Homo sapiens: one gene and its partners. The protein of the gene in region 4 interacts with the protein of the main gene of each other region in a pairwise test. Each region holds a gene or a part of one and is shown on either strand. Other genes may lie near its edges.

Region 1 (4,393 bases), on a different chromosome or scaffold from region 4:
TTTATGTTAATAGCATTCAGAGCAGCATGAAGAAGGTCCAGTGAGTGCTAATGTGGGTCAGCTATAGAGTACCCCAAGTGCATGTTAATAGAGGTCAGAATCATGTAGGGGGAACAGTACGTTAATGAGGGGAGTCAGTACTATGGAGAAGGTAACAAGCAGCTAGGCCAGGGAGGGGCCCAAGAATGTGGTGGCAAGAGTTACTTAGAGGAGGCTAAGTGTGTGCTGACAGAGTTCAGGGCGGTATGTTATGTGTTAGGGCTTTGAATGCTGATGGGTATATGAGATAATAGCAGGTAAGATGTAGTGAGGCCTCCTTGAGGGTCTAGCGTGTATTAATGGGGATCAGGACATAGGGTGCGATGACCAAGTCCTTAGTGGTTGGTGTGTTGAGTATCCTTGAGTATGAGAGTAGTCTGAGGATGGGTGTATGTCTTTGGGGATCAGGAAGGGTCAGGCAGGACATGTGCCTTTTTTGGGGTAAGGTTTTATGTCCAGTTTCTTGCTCCCTCCTTTTTTGAAATCTAAAAAGCTCATTCAACTGAAATGATATTTAAAAGTTTCCTTGCGTATAAATGTTCAATTATCTCTGTTCACAGGGGCATGTCTGAGACCCCCATCCCCCTTTCTGGGAGTGTTATGTGATATACAGATTTTACACCCCATCTTCCTAAAATCCCAAAAAACTGAACTCCAGAGCATGTCCAGCCCTTGGGGTTTCCAGTTAGAGGTCGTGGACCCATGGCTCCTCCTGGCTTCCTCCCCATCCTCCATTCAGCCCTACTTCCAGTCTCCCCCAGCCCCTCCCCTACTCCCTGTCACAACATGCAAAGCAACTGGGTATCTGTGCCATATGGGGACACAAGGTTGTCTTTGGGAGCTGGCCATGCTTTACCTTCCTTGCCTTAGGCCCAGTATTCAGCCTCCCAGGTCAGGATGTTTTGTGGTTATCCTGGGTTCTCCATGGATGGACCTCATCCTGTATCTGAGGTCTTTCTGCTAGGGTGGCCCCTACCCCTCCTGGGGATAGTGAGTTCAGCCAGGTGGGGGCGAGAACTGCTGGGGGAAGCACCTGATTTCAAGGTAGCAGATGACCCATTTCTCTCCTCAAATCCAGCCCCAGTCTCATCCTCGACCTCCTATCTAGCTCTACTTCCCTTGGGCCCAGGGCCATCTTAGGCCCTGCTGTGAGTCCAGATGGTTCCTGGGTCAGGTCTTTCCCCCTCCTTGCTGGCCCAGAGCCCAAGAGGAAGCAGAAGACGGCTGGCCTAAGCCTTTTGGTGGCCCCATTCCCTTCAGCAATCCATCTAGGTCATCTTCCTGTCGATGCCAGCATCCCTGGGCTACCTTGTTTAGGGTTGTTCAATGAATAGCAGGGACTCATCACCTCAGCAGAGGTTGGTCCTAGGCCCTCAGCCCCCTGATTCACTTATTTCTGCCATAAGCACTTTTTGAGCATCTACTCTGTGTCAGTCACTATTCCAGGTCCTCAGGATATAGCCGTGACCTAAACACAGAAATCTACCCTGGCGGAGCTGATCTTCTAGTTGTGGCGGTGAGGAGATAGACAGTAAAGACTAAAGAAACCAATAAGTAGGTGGTGTCATTTCTGAGGAGGTAATGAGTGCTGGGGGGATAACTGGCAAGGTGAGGGAGTTCGGGATGGTTGAGATTTTAAATAGGGTTATTCACAGAGGCCTCATGAAAAAGGTGACCTTTGAGCAATGGCCCAAAGGGAGAGGGGAGTGAGCCATTTCGAAATTTAGGGGAAGGGTGTTCCAGGTACCAGGAACAGCCAGTGTAAAGGCCCCGAGGTGGGACTCTACTGGGTGTGGTTGCAGAACAGCAACTAGGAATGATGGCGGGGGGGTGTGGGGGTGGGGGGGGGCCGTGGGCAAGAGGCAATAGGGGCAAATGAGGTAAAGAAACACCTGTGGGCCACATTGAGGACTGGGGCGTGTATTTGGGGTGATGAAAAATGTACATTCTTGAGTAGAGGAGAAATGTGACTTGGCTTGTAAAAGTCTAGATTGGACCCTAGGGGTCCTAACCTGATCAAACCGTTCTGGCAGCCCTGAGAAGAGCTGGTGTACACTGAGACCCCCCCGCCCTCCACACAATCCCACCCAGTGGTTGGGTCTGGGCAGGACACCCTGACACACGCTCCCCTCCCCCCCCCCACCTGGGTAGATGAATGGGATGATGCAGTGGTTGTCATGACGATGAGTGCTAGAGAAGTCAGGAAGAGGGTCCCTGTGGCCACAGGGAATAGTCTGCCTTGGCCTTTGAGGGTGGTGCTAGGGGAACTATGCCACTCTATGGCCGTGCTCGAGACCATGTCACCCATCCTTCAATTCTGGGCACACGCCCTGGCCGACCCATGGCTGGGCCCATCACTGCAGCTGTACCTGAGAAGATCTGCAATGGAGCCTTCTGCTCCTGCAGTGGGGCTTTTCCCCTAGATCCCAACAATCCATCGTTAGGGCCCTTGCCCTCAATCAGCCACCTAAATCTGAGAACTCAGGTGGGCTACGTAGGAGCAGGGTCCCAGTGGGGCTGGCTGTGTGGGTGGGCAGGTACTGACAAAGATCCCCATCCATGCTGGGTTTCCAGAACTCCTGAGTGGCTCTGGGGTCCATAGTGGTTGAGTGAGCACTGACAAGTTCATGTCAGTGCCCCCTGCTAGGCTGTGGGCTTTAGGGAACCCATGGTGATCAAGCAAATGCTAATAAGAGACCCATTTCCATCCTTGTCCCTTGCTCAGATCGCCATGGATCGGATGAAGAAGATCAAACGGCAGCTGTCAATGACACTCCGAGGTGGCCGAGGCATAGACAAGACCAATGGTGCCCCTGAGCAGATAGGCCTGGATGAGAGTGGTGGTGGTGGCGGCAGTGACCCTGGAGAGGCCCCCACACGTGCTGCTCCTGGGGAACTTCGTTCTGCACGGGGCCCACTCAGCTCTGCACCAGGTGGGTCCACTGGCTATCCCCTCTCCCATATGGCCCCAGGCTGCTTCCCAGGTGTTGCCTCCTGGTCACATTCCTCATTTTCCTCTAAATTTTCTGCCCTTTCTCTGCCCCCCATGTGCTCTCTTCTCCCCCTTCCCTCCCATCTTCTCTCAACACCGTCTGTCTATCTGTCCATCTGCGCTCCTCTTCTTGCCTTTCTGCCCAGGCCCCGTGGTGGGGGACAGAAGGTGCCTTGCCTGTCACAGCTGCCCCAAGGCTCCCTCTGCCCTTCTGCCCTCTATGATGGCCTCCTCAGTCCTCTGGTACCTGCCTGCCCTGGGCCTGCCTTCCCAGGACCCTTGGCTTCCCCTGCCACCACCTAGCTGCCGGCTCTGAGCTCAGCTTGCCCTTGGAAGGAAGGGTTCCACTAGGTGACTTTTGCTTCCCCACCCCCCAGTTCAACCTGCCCTAGATGTACCTGAGCTTCCCTGGGCTCAGGTACATCACCCTCTCCCCGAGGGACTCCAGGTTTCCTGTGGGGGCCACGTGCACACATGTGTGATGATGGAATATGTTTCGTGGGGGATGGGGTGTCCTGTGGTTCCTGACCCCACCTGGCCTGCCCTACCCCTCTCCCTGCCACCAGAGATTGTGCACGAGGACTTGAAGATGGGGTCTGATGGGGAGAGTGACCAGGCTTCAGCCACGTCCTCGGATGAGGTGCAGTCTCCAGTGAGAGTGCGTATGCGCAACCATCCCCCACGCAAGATCTCCACTGAGGTGCTTGACCCCGTCTGGATGGTGGAGGAACTGGAAAAGGGGGTTGGACCTGGGGAGGTGGAGCTCATGATCCTGTTTCTCTCTTGCCTTACCTGCTAGGACATCAACAAGCGCCTATCACTACCAGCTGACATCCGGCTGCCTGAGGGCTACCTGGAGAAGCTGACCCTCAATAGCCCCATCTTTGACAAGCCCCTCAGCCGCCGCCTCCGTCGTGTCAGCCTAGTAAGCACCTTCTGTTCCCGTCCTCTCCTTTTTCTTCTCTCCCAGACCCTTCTCCTGAGCCAGCTTTAACCTGCCTCATTTGTCCCACAGTCTGAGATTGGCTTTGGGAAACTGGAGACCTACATTAAGCTGGACAAACTGGGCGAGGTGAGAGGCAAATAGGAGGCCCATGGTGGGGATGAAGGTCAGTGGGAACTCCTGGAATCTCATAGCACCTCTCCTGTCACACTTCCTCACATTCCAGGGTACCTATGCCACCGTCTACAAAGGCAAAAGCAAGCTCACAGACAACCTTGTGGCACTCAAGGAGATCAGACTGGAACATGAAGAGGGGGCACCCTGCACCGCCATCCGGGAAGGTACACACCCCCATCCCATCTGCCCCAGGCTTCCCCAACCCACCCCTGGCGCACACACTCCATAATGAGAACAAAGAC
Region 2 (4,393 bases), on a different chromosome or scaffold from region 4:
TCATACAGCCTGTTATGATGCGCATTTTACAGATCAGTAGACTGAGACCTGGGCAGGCCCTCTGACTACAGACTGAGCTCATTACTGCACACAGCGTGCTGCCAGTACATGCTGGGCTCTGGGGTGCTGGAGCCGCAGGTCCTGGCCCCATCAATACAATCCAAAGTGAGCTGGCTCTGATGAGGAAGAGGCCAAGATGCCCCACTCAGGGAAGTCTTCCTGGGAGAGGTGGTAGCCAGGCAGACCTGGGAGTAGGAGGAGGTAGGGCTGGGCTTTGTAGACACCACACTTGGTGGGACAGAGGCCTGCTAGGGAGAGGGCCTGTGTCCTTGCCACCAGCCCATCTTCCACGCCATGTCCCCCTGCACTCTTTGAAGGGAGATGGTCTCTTTTGGGGCTAAGCTGGGGTCCTGGAGCCAGAAGAGAACTGAGATTTGCTGTGGGGGGTTGGGAGCTGTTCCATTTTTAGTGGCTGCTACAGGAAGAGCGGCCGAGTGTTTCCCCTTGTCCCTGCAGAAGGCTGGAGTGTAACTGTCCTTGGGAACTGGGTCAGCTGATAGCAGGGCTGGGGGTGGGGGTGGGGATCCTGAATCCTCCAGCAGATGTCCTCATTGCCCTGATCTGGGTGGCCAGTGCCTGTGCTGGACACGGTCCTCAGTCATCGGAGCCCACTGAGTCTCCCCCTGACCCTGCAGAGAATTTCAAAGAGGCGAAGTTCCTTCCAGTGGCCTCACAAAGGCTATCTGGCTTAGGAGCCATTACCTGAAGCCAGAATTTCTGAGTTCCAAGTCCCAGCTCCATCACGGAACTTGGCCCAAGGCCCTTAACCCCTCTGGGCCTCAGTTTTGTCATCTTTGAAATGGGGATCTTAGAGATGCCTACCTGTCAAGGGACTTGTGAGGCGCAACGGGACCACACGCAGGGCCTGGCCAGAGTGCCGTAGTTTCTTCGGTTGCCATGATGGGACGGTGAAACTCCTCACACTCTTCTTTCTGCCTTGAAGATTCTAGACCTGGCTGGGTGTTCATCTCCCTTTTTGCCTTTGCTTGAGGCAGTTTATGGCATGGCTGTGTTATTCACGTCGCCAGGTCTCCTCCTGGTGGACGTTGAGGCCATTTTCATTTTTTTACTCTTAAAAACGACAGGGCAGTGCGCATCTTCGCATCTCCGGGGTGGGTCAGGTCTCTGACCTCTTTGCCAGTGTGACTTATTACCCCTTTCTTTCTTTGTTTTTCTTTTTGAGACAGTGTCTTGCTCTGTCGCCAGGCTGGAATGCAGTGGTGTGATCATAGATCATAGCTCACTGCAACCTCCAGCTCCTGGCTCAAATGATCCTCCCACTTCAGCCGATATTAATCCATTTTCATGCTGCTGATAAAGACGTATTTGAGACCGGGCAATTTACAAAAGAAAGAGGTTTAATGGAGTTACAGTTCCACACAGCTGGGCTGGGGAAGCCCCACAATCATGGCAGAAGGCAAGGAGGAGCAAGTCACATCTTATACGGATGGCAGCTGGCAAAGAGAGTGAGAGAGCTTCTGCAGGGAAACTCCTGTTTTTAAAACCATCAGATCTCGTGAGACTTATTCTCTATCACGAGAATAGCACGGGAAAGACCCACCCCCATGATTCATTGATCTCCCACTGGGTCCCTGCTACAACACAAGGGAATTATGGGAGCTACAAGATGAGATTTGGGTGGGGACACAGAGCCAGACCATATCAGCCTCCCAAGTAGCTGGAACTACAGGTGTGCGCCAACATGCCTGGCTAATTTTTTAAATTTCTGTAGAGACGGGGTCTCACTGTGTCACCCAGGCCGGTCTTGAACTCCTGGGCTCAAGTGATCCACCCTCCTCGGCGTCCCACAGTGCTGGATAATAGGCGTGAGCCACTGTGCCCAGCCATTTCCCCCTTATTTTTAGCATCACTACAGTAGCTGTGATCTCTGAGCTTTGGGGATATCCCCTCCCCAACATTTTACTCTGAAAATTCGAACATCTGGAAACGTCAAGGCTTTGTACAGTGGACACCTGTGTACTCGGCAGCCACCTTCCGTGATGAACATGCCTTATATTTGCTTTGTCCTCAATCTGTGATTCGGGACTGGATTTCTCTTGTTTCCTGGTGGGACCCACACTGCTTGTCAATTACTTATTTTGTTCCCCTTCATCCCAGTCTTGCTGTGACTTTCAGATACCCCCGGGTCTTATATACACTCAGGGTTATACCCAGAAAACATTTCTCCTGGGGGATTTGTCTCTAGGTAGGGGGCCCTCTTGAATAGTCAGGGGGAGAAAGAAAGACTCAAGACCAGCTCTGAGGAGGCGGCAGGGGTGCCCCTTCCCTCTACCTTGTGGGCTCCTTGGGGAAGAAGGACAAGTGAGTGCCATGAGAAATACCCCTGGGGATTTTGTGGAGCTGGAATGTGCTGGTGGACCATGAATCCACAAGGACTTGGGCATCGAACTCCCTTGACTGGGACCCACAGCAAGGGAGGCTCTGCAGCATCACCTTAATCAAATGGACTCACCCTCTCTGGGTGATGTATCCTGGTGCTTCCTCTTCTGTTCATCAGTCAATCAACAAATAAATGGCTGGGCGTGGAGGCATATGCCTGTAATCCCAGAAACTTTGGTCATTGGTTATGTCTACCTGTTTATTTTTGGGGGAGGGGGATTCATAATATGTCATGACGTATATTAACAGTTTGCAAAGTGCCACATGGGAACGTAATCTTCAGGATCTGGAAAGAGGCTCAGTCTATTCAGTCTATAGGAACCCCCGCCTCCCCCAAGACCCTTGTCATGAGAACGAATCTTTCACTCCCAAATTCCTAGAGTGACGATGATTGGGTCATTATTTTCTTTTTTATTTTATTTTATTTTATTTTATTTATTTTTTTATTTTTTTGAGATGGAGTCTTCTCTGTCTCCCAGGCTAGAGTGCAGTGGCGCAATCTCGGCTCACTACAACCTCCGCCTCCCGGGTTCAAGCAATTATCCTGCCTCAGCCTCCTGAGTAGCTGAGACTACAGGCATGTGCCACCATGCCAGGCTAATTTTTTGTATTTTTAGTAGAGACAGGGTTTCACCATGTTAGTGAGGATGGTCTGAATCTCCTGACCTTGTGATCTGCCCACCTCTGCCTCCCAAAGTGCTGGGATTACAGGCGTGAGCTACTGTGCCCAGCCTGGGTCATTACTTTCATTCAACAAAGCATTTCTCCCCGCAGTCCATGCGCACCCTGCCCACAGCTCTTTCTCATTTTCAGCATCTCTCTTCCCTTTCTAGAACATGCCGAGTTTTTGCACTGCAAGTCCAAAAAGTTTACAGACTTTGATGAAGTCCGGCAGGAGATTGAAGCAGAGACCGACAGGGTCACGGGGACCAACAAAGGCATCTCCCCAGTGCCCATCAACCTTCGAGTCTACTCGCCACACGGTAGGCAGCACGGGTGGGGACCCATCACTGACCGTTTCTGGTCGTTCATGGACAGTGCTATGGGTGAGCCTGTGTACTTCCACTCATGGGTATCATGTGCCCATTCACAAACAGTTGATATTCACACACACATAGCCCCTTGATCTGTATCTTCCCACTTGTGCTAGGTATGTAGTACCCAGACCTCTGTCTCAGCTTGAAGAAAGAGCATGCCAAGAAGTTGTTTGGAGTGGTGGGGGATTGCAGCCATTTCCCCCTTTTACCAAGGGCAGCCACCACTTGGCTCAAGGCAGCCAGATCTGCTGGTGCCTCAAGAGAGGCCAGAACCAGTCTTCTGTAAAATATCCTGGGTTTTTTTTTTTTTTTTTTGAGACAGAGTCTTGCTCTGTTGCCCAGTCTGGGGTTCAGTGGTGTGATCTCTGCTCGCTGCAACCTCCACCTCCCAGGTTCAAGCAATTATTGTGCCTCAGCCGCCCAAGTAGCTGGGATTACAGGCATGCACCACTACACCCAGCTAATTTTTTTTTTTTTTTTTTTGAGATGGAGTCTCGCTCTGTCGCCCAGACTGGAGTACAGTGGTGTGATCTCAGCTCACTGCAGTCTCCGCCTCCCAGGTTCAAGCTATTCTCCTGCCTCAGCCTCCCAAGTAGCTAGGACTAGAGGCAACTGCCGCCACGCCTGGCAAATTTTTTGTATTTTTAGTAGAGATGGGATTTCACCATATTGGCCAGGCTTGTCTCAAACTCCCGACCTTGTGATCTGCCCACTTTGGCCTCCCAAAATGCTGGGATTACAGACGTGAGCCGCCGCGCCCGGCCAAATTTTTTTTTTTTTTTTTGAGACAGAGTCTCGCTCTGTTGCCCAGGCTGGAGTGTAGTGGCGCAATCTCCACTCAATGCAACCTTCACCTCCCGGGTTCAAGCAATTCTCTGGCCTCAGCCTCCCGAGTA
Region 3 (4,393 bases), on a different chromosome or scaffold from region 4:
TTTTGTATTTGTAATAGAGACAGGGTTTCACCATGTTGGTCAGGCTGGTCTTGAACTCCTGACCTCCGGTGATCCACTCCCCCTCCCTTGGCCTCCCAAAGTGGTGGGATTACAGGCATGAGCCGCTGAGCCCGGCCCCAGCCTTTGTTTTTGGTTAGTACTGTTACATTGGCAAGATTTATTGCATTTATATAATGTTTTATAACTCTTCTAAAGTTTTCTGTGCTTCTGCAGGAAAATCTAGAAATTGAGTACTAATAGCCACTCTTTTAAATATGTATGTTGACATGAGTATTAGTTACTATAGAACCAAGTACTGTGGAGCCATAGAGAAACTTCACTTCTGTTAAACCTGTGATCCTTAAAAAGGAAATATAACAAAGTCAGCCGGGCACAGTGGCTCACGTCTGTAAGCCCAGCACTTTGAGAGGCCCAGGCAGGCGGATCGCCTCAGGTCAGGAGTTAGAGACCAGCCTGGCTAACATGGTGAAACCCCGTCTCTACTAAAAATGCAAAAATTAGCCCGACGTGGTGGTGGGCACCTGTAATCCCAGCTACTCGGGAGGCTGAGGCAGGAGAATTGCTTGAACCCGGGAGGTGGAGGTTGCAGTGAGCCAAGATCATGTCATTGCACTCCAGGCTGGGTGACAAAGCAAGGCTTCGTCTCAGGAAAAAAAAAAAAAAAAGAAATATAACAAAGTCCTGGTTGAATGAGGAAAGCTCATTGAAGTTATTTTTAAAATTTAATATTATAATGGGTTCTCATGTTGTAGCCATTCAGCTTGTCTTGGTAGACTTTCCGGAGTCTTGGCCTGCCTTTTCTAATTTGGGAAGCTTAGTAGACCTGTTACCCAGCTGTCATCCTGGGATTACTTCACATTGTTCTCCTGGGTTAGATCTATTGTTATTTGGATCCCATGTTTTTCTCTTTTAGATACCTTTTTTATTTTACAGGAATACAGCCTTCAATAGTTGTTTCTGGAAGGATATGCTGGTGATAAACTTTCTGAGTTCTCGAATGTTGAAAATGGCTTGTCTTTGTTCCTGATTGAAAGTTTACATGTGGAATTATAAATTCCTCAGAATTTTGAAAACTTTGCTGTGGGAATCTAAAATACTTGGTGTGCTAATCAGAGGTCCATTGCAGATCTGATGGTTATTCTCCTGTAGAAGATTGTAATCTACAATTGTAGTCTACGATCTACGGGATTTGTTTACATTCTGAAAGGTTTCTTTGATTTTGTCTTTGAACTTTTCTATAAAATTTATTTCAGTAGTTATCTTTAATTTATAAGAGTTCTTCTATCATCTTTCATTTTTCTTTCTTTTTAAATAGCAACCTGTCCTTGATTTATGGGGAAATACCTTGAATTTCTCTGATGCTAATTTCTCTAGAGTTCTTGAGACACTTCCCTGAATTGGTGACTCTAACAGTGGGTTTGTATTTAGGTATTCCATACTAATTTTTGTATTTTAAATATTTAAGTTATTTGATAAGTACAAAAGATTATAACAGGTAAGGCGTATGTAAACAAACATACATATAATTACCAACCAGTTTACTAATTCATTAGTGTAACTTTAGCAGGATGCACTTTCCTGATCACATCCACTGCAACCATGTCCACCTTCACCAATGACAGTAGCCATTGTACTGAATTTTGGATTCATCATTCCTGGTCTGTCTTTATACTTTTAACATATATACATATGTAAAATTTATTTATTTATTTATTTATTTTTTGAGACGGAGTTTTGCTCTTCTTGCCCAGGCTGGAGTGCAGTGGCGCGATCTTGACTCACCGCAACCTCCTCCTCCCAGGTTCAAGCAATTTTACTGCCTCAGCCTCCCGAGTAGCCGGGATTACAGGTGTGCACCATGCCCGGCTAATTTTTTTGTATTATTAGTTTTCACCATGTTGGCCAGGCTGGTCTTGAACTCCTGACTTCAGGTGATCCACCCGCCTTGGCCTCCCAAAGTGCTGGGATCACAGGTGTGAGCTACTGTGTCTGGCCATCCATATTTCTTAAATCCAAATGTTTGAAAATGAAGAGAAAAAAACTGTAAAGTTTCACCAAACTTGTCTTGCAGAAAAACCCTGACCTGCACTGATATTGTAATCTTTGTTGATCTCACTTAGTGTGAATATTTGTATGTTTCACTGTAGAGATTCTAGGAATAGAATTGCTGGTATTTAAGAAGAATGTGTGCATATTCACCAATATTGGATAATGTCAGATTATCTTCCAAAAAAGGTGGTGTCAGTCTTCGTTCTCTCCAGCAATGCAGAAGTTTTCATTACTCAGCTTTCTTGCTAACATCTACTTTTGTCACACTTCAAAAGGTTTTATCGGTTGGGCATGGTAGCTCACGCCTGTAATCCTAGCACTTTGGGAGGCCATGGTGGGTGGATGGCTTGAGACCAGGAGTTTGAGACCAGCCTGGGTAAAATGGTGAAACCCCATCTCTACCAAAACAAAACAAAATTAGCTGGGCATAGTGGCCCACACCTGTAGTCCCAGCTACTTGGCAGGCTGAGATGGGAGGATCACCTGAAGCTAGGAAGTGAGCTGTGATCATGCCATTGCACGCCAGCTTGGGCAACAGAGTGAGACCCTGTTTCAAAAAAAAAAGTTTTTACCCACGAGTATAAAATACCACCTTTTAGTTTTCATTTGCTTTGCTAATGAGTTTGAGCATCTTTTACTATACTGATTAGCCATTCTTCCCTTTTCTCACATTCCTATTCATGTCTTTTGCCCATGTTTGTACTAGTTTTTTAAAAAAATTATTTCATACTGATTTTTAATAGTTTCACAGTTGGATGCATGTGGTGCAAATTTCTCCTTTCAATTGGGCTCACTTTTAAATCATTTTTATTTTTATTTTTTGAGATGGAGTCTCACTCTGTAGCCCTGGCTGGAGTGCAGTGGCGTGATCTCAGTTTACTGCACCCTCCACCCCCAAGGTTCAAGAGATTCTCCTGTCTCAGACTTCTGAGTAGCTGGGATTACAGGTACCCGCCACCATGCCTGGCTAATATTTGTATTTTTAATAGAGACGGGGTTTCACCATGTTGGTCAAGCTGGTCTCGAACTCCTGACCTCAGGTGATCTGCCCACCTTGGTCTCCCAAAGTGCTGGGATTATAGGCATGAGCAACTGCATCCAGCCTTATGCGTTTTTTGATGAGTAGAAGTTCTTAATTTTTATGTGATTGCATTTATCAGGCTTTTCTTTATGGATAGTGCTTTTGAATCTTGTTGAAGAAATTTTTCAACAGAGTTCTCGAAGATATTTTCCATTATTGTAAAAGTATAAGACGTAGTTTTTTTGTTTTTTGTTTTTGTTTTTTTTTTACCTTTTCTCATTTAAGGTTTTAATCCACCTGGAGTTGATTTTGTATACAGTGTGAAGTGGTGACCAAGATGCATGGTTTTTCCTCAAAGAATAATAAATTGTTCCATCACCTTTCATGCAAATTTTTTTCTTCACTGGTTTGGATGCCATCACTCATCTGTGCTTTGGTTCTGGACTCTGGGCCGTTAGTCTGTTTTTACAGAAATTGTTAAAAAGTTACAGTAACTAAAACAAGATGATGCTGCTGCTAGCATAAACAAACTTCTTGCCTGGTGAGGTGGCTCAAGGCTGTAATCCCATCACTTTGGGAGGCCATGGTGGGAGCATCACTTGAGCCAGGAGTTCAAGACCAGCCTGGGCAACATGGTGAGACCCCATCTCTGTGTAAGATAATATTTTTTATAATAAAAAACCAAACTTCTTTTGATATATAGCATACACATAGGAAGTACACAGATAATGAAATTATAGCTGGATGAATTTTCTCAAAATAATAATCGTGCAGGTCAAGAAAGAGAACATTACCAGCACTCTAAATATTCCCCTCCCCAGTGGCTAACCTCACCTCATTCTTCCAAAAGCGACCTACTATCCTAACTTTAACAGATTAGTATTGCCTGTTTTTGAACTTTATATAAATGGAACCTGTGTAGTATATATACAGTTGCCCCTTGGTGTACCTGGGGGATTGGTTCTAGGATCCACCCTCCCAACAGGAAAATCATGTGTACTCAAGTCCTGAAGTTGGCCCTGCAGAACCCATGTATAGGAAAAGTTGGCCCTCTGTATATGTGGGTTTCACGTCCTGCAAATACCATATTTTTGATCTGCATTTGGTTGAAAAAAAAATATGCGTATAAGTGGACCTGCACAGTTCAAACCAGTTGACAAGATACAGTTGACCTTTGACTAACACAGGTTTTTGTTATTGGATATGTTATTGTTATTCAATATTCAACTATATGTTATTGTTATTCAAAGGTCAACTGTATTCTGTTTCTGTATATGTATTCTGTTGTTTCTGCCTTTTTTT
Region 4 (5,288 bases):
GTCGTGCAGAATGAGGTCCAAGGAGATACAGAAGAACTTGAGATGGAGGCCATGATGTGGGCGAGTGCAGGGCTGGTGCTGCCTGACATGGTGCTAGTCACCTGATGAAGTGAGGGTCTCACCCCAGTGTGGTCTTGGCTTCCTCATAAGAACCGAGAACCTTGGTGGCAGCTGAGGAGAGAGCTTTTATTTCTTAACATTTCACTTAAGAACTAAATACTTTTAGTATGTTTGGTGAGGGAAGTTATTTTGAGACTGGACGATTTTTAGTGTAGGAACTATGGTTACATATGTTTTTTAGTGGTTTTTATCACTGGGACAAATTGAAGCTTTCTCTTCCAAGGCAAAGGAGTTATGTGTAGCATACTAGGATCATCTGCTCAGATGAACATCTTTTTTTCTGCCCAGAGATTTTGATAGTCCATAAGAGAGTAATAAGTGAATGTCTGTTTGTATTGGGGGATAGTTGGTATATATACCTTATATATATAATATAAGATTGTTCATGTAGGTACTTTGAAAAAACTTTCTAAGTAATTCTGGTGCAACTCCTAGTTGAGAACATTTACCCTAGAAGATGATAGATAAGCCTGGCATAAAGTTGACAGATGTAAAATCAGACTTTAGAGGCTTCCAGGTAGACCAAAATGAAGAAGAAAGGAAGAGATTTTTGAGGGTGAGTCTAATTTGAAACTTGGCAGACTGAGGTAGTGGTGCTGCAGTTAACTAAGAGAACATACTAGGGGAATTTGCAGGTTTAAATGGGGAGGATAATGAGTAATGAATGCGTTAGTCAATGAATAGTGAATAAGATTTGAGAAGGTAGAGAAAGTTGAAATTTGTTCTTTTTCTTCTGAGACAAGAGTCTCGCTCTGTCACCCAGGCTGGACTGCATTGGCACAATCTTGGCTCACTGCAACCTCCGCCTCCCGGGTTCAAGCTATTCTCCTGCCTCAGCCTCTCGAGTAGCTGGGACTACTGGCACCCGCCATCATGCCCAGCTAATTTTGGTATTTTTGTAGAGACGTGGTTTCACTATGTTGGCCAGGCTGGTCTTGAACTCCTGACCTCAGGATATCCACCTTCCTCGGCCTCCCAGAGTGCTGGGACTACAGGAGTGAGCCACCGTGCTCGGCCTGAAGTTTGTTCTTTTAAGAGGTTTGTTGAAGGTAATGAAGGAGGAGATAGCATGGGAATTTGAGAGAGAACTGAGTTAAAGAGATGTACTTTAGGAGGAAGGAGAAAGGAAAGAGACTAAAGAGGGTGAGTTAAAGCAAGAGTGAGATGAGGAAAGTCAGGTTTAGGAAGACATAGTAGGGATTCCTTCAGGAGCACAGGAAGCGGAGTACCTTAGAGAGGAGAATCATGTTTCCATGAGACAGGAGAGAAAGTGAACCAGTTGAAATCTCTGTGCTTTAGTTTTTTTCAATTGTAAAATAGAGATAGTAATAGTATATACCTTATAGTGTAGTCATGAGAATTAAATGAATTGTACATTTAAGCATTTGCTACTATTAATGTTATTATTAAATTATGAATTTATTTAGAATAGTTTACTGTTCTGATTGTAGAGTACCTTTTACTTATATAATGCATATGAAGCACATAAAACATCTTCCTTTTTTTTTCTTTTTTTTTTTTTTTTTGACACGGAGTCTTGCTCTGTCACCCAGGCTGGAGTGCAGTGGCATGATCTTGCAATCTCCGCCTCCTTAGTTCGAGCGATTCTCCTGCCTCAGCCTCCCGAGTAGCTGGGACTACAGGCGCATGCCACCACACCCGGCTAATTTTTTTTTTCTGTATTTTTAGTAGAGACCGGGTTTCACCATGTTGGCCAGGATGGTCTTGATCTCCTGACCTCGTGATCTGCCTGCTTTGGCCTCCCAAAGTGCTGGGATTACAGGCGTGAGCCACCGCGCCTGGCCAATTTTTGTATTTTTTAGTAGAGACAAGGTTTCACCATGTTAGCCAGGCTGCTTGAATTCCTGAGCTCAGGTGATCCCCCTGCCTCAGCCTCCCAAAGTGCTGGGATTACAGGTGTGAGCCACTGAGGCCGGCCTAGTTTTTTTTTGTTTGTCTGAGACAGAGTCTCGCTCTGTCACCCGGGCTGGAGTGCGGTGGCACGATCTCAGCTCACTGCAACCTCTGCCTCTTGGGTTCAAGCGCTTCTCTTGCCTCAGCCTCCCAAGTAGCTGGGATTACAGGAGCATACCACCATGCCTTACTAATTTTTGTATTTTTAGTAGAGTTGGTGCTTCACCATGTTAGCCAAGGTTGGTCTTGAACTTCTGACCTTGTGATTTGCCCACCTTGACCTCCCAAAGTGCTGGGATTACAGGCATGATCCACCGCACCTGGCCCTAATTTTTGTATTTTTAGTAGACATGGGGTTTCACCATGTTGGCCAGGCTGGTCTTGAACTCCTGACCTCAGGTGATCCACCCGCCTCGGCCTCCCAAAATACTGGGATTACAGCTGTGATTCACTGCGCCTGGCCACATCTTCCTTTTTTCAATAGGCAAGTGAATGCCTGCAGACTGAATTTTTTTTCTCCATTGAAACATGTTTATTTTCTTTCCCTATTTAGATTAAATTTCCCTATTCTTTCCCTATTATTAGTTGAAAAGAGCCTGGCCTTTGCTCCCCAGATAGTCCTGGATTCAAATCTTAAACTCTTCTGGTTGTATGATCCTGGGTTTTTGTCTTTGCTGATTGTGTCATCCTTCATAGAAAGGAATAAACTACCTATTTTGCCAGGTTATTAGTACTAAATATGAAATTCTCAATATGGTGTAAACCCTTATAGAGCTTTATAGAAAAACCTGGATTTAAAATCTTGCTTTGTTACTTACTGATTGTGTAACCTCAGACAAATTACTTAGTCTTTCTGATTGTCAATTTTCATTTATAAAGTAGAATTTAAGAAGAAATCTATTTCATTATTGTTTTGTGAGGAAATAGTATATATAAAGGTTTTAGCATAGAATATGGAACATATTAAGTTCTTAGTAAAGAGTTGCTGTTTCTGCTAACAGTATAGGAAATATTGCAGGATTAGTTCACTAATTTTATCTTTGTACATCTTTAGACTTCAGTTTTCTGTTACACAGTTTTATAACTCCAGTACTTCATGACTAAGCATTTCTAGATTCAAGAAAAATTTAGTATAACATTATTTTCATTTGTCTAGAGAGAAATTGTGCACATATCTGAAATTCAAAACAAAGGTGGCAGTTCGTAGTTTGGTTATGAATTACATTAGAAAATCAAGATGTATATAGGTACAAAGTACGTGAGCCTTATAACTCCCCAAGTCCTAACATTTACTACTGTTGCAATTTTACATTTATTTATCTGTTGATTTGATTAATTTATGTTTCTGGATTTTAATTTCCATGAGGGAAGGGACTAGTTAGTTTTTACCATTGTATTCCTGCCACATAGCAGGTGCTTATGATATAGTTTGCTGAAACGGATGAATGAATATAAATTAAGAAGTATGGACATTTAAGTTACACAACAATTTATTTTGACTGTTAATTAGAAATAAAGTGTTTTTGAGCTAATATGCCTCCTCTTTGGTTATATAACACCTTGTGCTTTTCTCTCTCATGATGATTATTTTGTGTTATTGTTTTCTTGATAATCTCTCCCACTGGATTCTTTGTTTTCTGAGGAAGGAGACCTTGTATTTTTTATTTTTGTGTTTCTAATGTCTAGCACAGCATTTTATACATGATAAATAGTTGATAAATCTTTGTAAAAGTAATTAAATGAATATTGCACAAGTAATCTCTTTACAGGAAATGCTGGGGCTCTCTAAAGTACCACTTACTCAAGCAACACGTGGTCCTCAGGTACAGCAGCCACCTCCTTCCAACAGGTAATAAATATGATGAAGAGAATTTGACCGTTTCTGTAGCTATTTTAAACATTCCATACCCTTGAACATAGGCATTCAGTGATACTATATTGTTAAATATTTTTAGGAATATAAGTAAATTGTATTAACATACTTTTTAAAGAATTGAGTCAAAATCATGTCATTAAAATGGTTTGTTTTTTGTCTTAACAATGTAAGGAGTTACTTTAGTTTTGTTATTTTCCTTATTTTTTATTTTGAACTTTGGAAAAAACTTGTTTTTGTGTGGTTTTAGGGCAGCCAAGGTTTTTATTTTTTCTTCTTAGCTTTAGAGGTAGCTTTTCCCGCTAAGGTTTCTGGAGTGCAGTGGCATGATCTTGGCTCACTACAACTTCCGCCTCCCAGGTTCAAACAATTCTCCTGCCTCAGCCTCCCAAGTAGCTGGGATTACAGGCATGCACCACCATGCCTGGCTAATTTTTGTATTTTTTGTAGAGACGGGGTTTCACCATCCCAATCTCCTGACTTTATGATCCTCCCTCCTCGGCCTCCCAAAGTGCTGGGATTACAGGTGTGAGCCACCGCGCCCTGCTAGCTTTTTCCCCTAAGCTTTCTAATCAGAGGTAGTATTACTAAAATTTAGTTGATGTATTTTCTCATAATTATTTCAGTAACCTAAAACTTACTAGACTAGTGAGAGATGAAATCCTGAAGTACTTGGTTTGAGTGTTTCGTTTATTGTGGTTGTATTCAAAATGTGGTTTCTGGGGCTGTTATCATCACGTGTCACCTAGGAATGCGTTTGAAATGCAAATTCTTCGGCTCCACTCCAGACCTACCGAAACAAACTCTAGAACTGGGACCTAGCAATATGTGTTAAAACAAGCCCTCCAGCTGGTTCTCATATACACGAAAGTTTGAGAACCATTGGTCTGCTGTGTGTTCAGAGTGTTGTTTTCTATTTTTAGGAAAGTGAAATTTGTTTATCGAACTCTCACCCATAAACATTTACAAATGGCTTTTTATTTAATTCTGTTTCTTAGATTCTTACAACCAGTACAGAAAATAGACATGAATCTCACAGATCTTCTGGGAGAACTCCAGCGAGACCCTTGGCCTGTACCACAGGGAAAGAGACCTTTGCGTTCCTCTGGGGTGGCACTTTCCATAGCTGTAGGACTGCTGGAGGTAGGGAAGATGGTTTTGTTTTGGAATGTAAAGTGTGTGTGTGTGTGTGTGTGTGTGTGTGTGTGTGTGTGTATATATAATTATAAGGATAAGAAGAACCAAAGTGCTTTTTTTCCTCCCTATTCTCTCACTCAGCATCAACAAAGAATACTTCTATGGTTTTCCCCCACATACCAACCAAGCAGTTCTGCCTTCGATACCACCTGGGTGTCCTGTAATTCAGTTCAATTCTGATACT

What was found. Proteins that work in one complex are often made in the same cells at the same time.
Region 1: the proteins of SEC23A (region 4) and CDK16 interact in binary tests that used the Homo sapiens proteins (3 or more experiments, as listed by UniProt).
Region 2: the proteins of SEC23A (region 4) and DNM2 interact in binary tests that used the Homo sapiens proteins (3 or more experiments, as listed by UniProt).
Region 3: the proteins of SEC23A (region 4) and PIAS2 interact in binary tests that used the Homo sapiens proteins (3 or more experiments, as listed by UniProt).

The regions. Positions count from the first base shown.
Region 1 is NC_000023.11:47,220,788-47,225,180, forward strand, and holds part of CDK16 (cyclin-dependent kinase 16), read left to right. Parts: exon of another isoform or gene 1-1,473; coding exon of another isoform or gene 1,474-1,555; exon of another isoform or gene 1,556-1,593; intron 1,594-2,263; exon of another isoform or gene 2,264-2,308; coding exon of another isoform or gene 2,309-2,524; intron 2,525-2,764; coding exon of another isoform or gene 2,765-2,770; coding exon 2,771-2,972; intron 2,973-3,597; coding exon 3,598-3,731; intron 3,732-3,830; coding exon 3,831-3,956; intron 3,957-4,046; coding exon 4,047-4,103; intron 4,104-4,200; coding exon 4,201-4,315; intron 4,316-4,393. UniProt on the Homo sapiens protein: Protein kinase that plays a role in vesicle-mediated transport processes and exocytosis. Regulates GH1 release by brain neurons. Phosphorylates NSF, and thereby regulates NSF oligomerization. Required for normal spermatogenesis.
Region 2 is NC_000019.10:10,769,186-10,773,578, forward strand, and holds part of DNM2 (dynamin-2), read left to right. Parts: intron 1-3,293; coding exon 3,294-3,443; intron 3,444-4,393. UniProt on the Homo sapiens protein: Catalyzes the hydrolysis of GTP and utilizes this energy to mediate vesicle scission at plasma membrane during endocytosis and filament remodeling at many actin structures during organization of the actin cytoskeleton.
Region 3 is NC_000018.10:46,907,508-46,911,900, reverse strand, and holds part of PIAS2 (E3 SUMO-protein ligase PIAS2), read left to right. Parts: intron 1-4,393. UniProt on the Homo sapiens protein: Functions as an E3-type small ubiquitin-like modifier (SUMO) ligase, stabilizing the interaction between UBE2I and the substrate, and as a SUMO-tethering factor.
Region 4 is NC_000014.9:39,085,524-39,090,811, reverse strand, and holds part of SEC23A (protein transport protein Sec23A), read left to right. Parts: intron 1-3,803; coding exon 3,804-3,883; intron 3,884-4,905; coding exon 4,906-5,050; intron 5,051-5,288.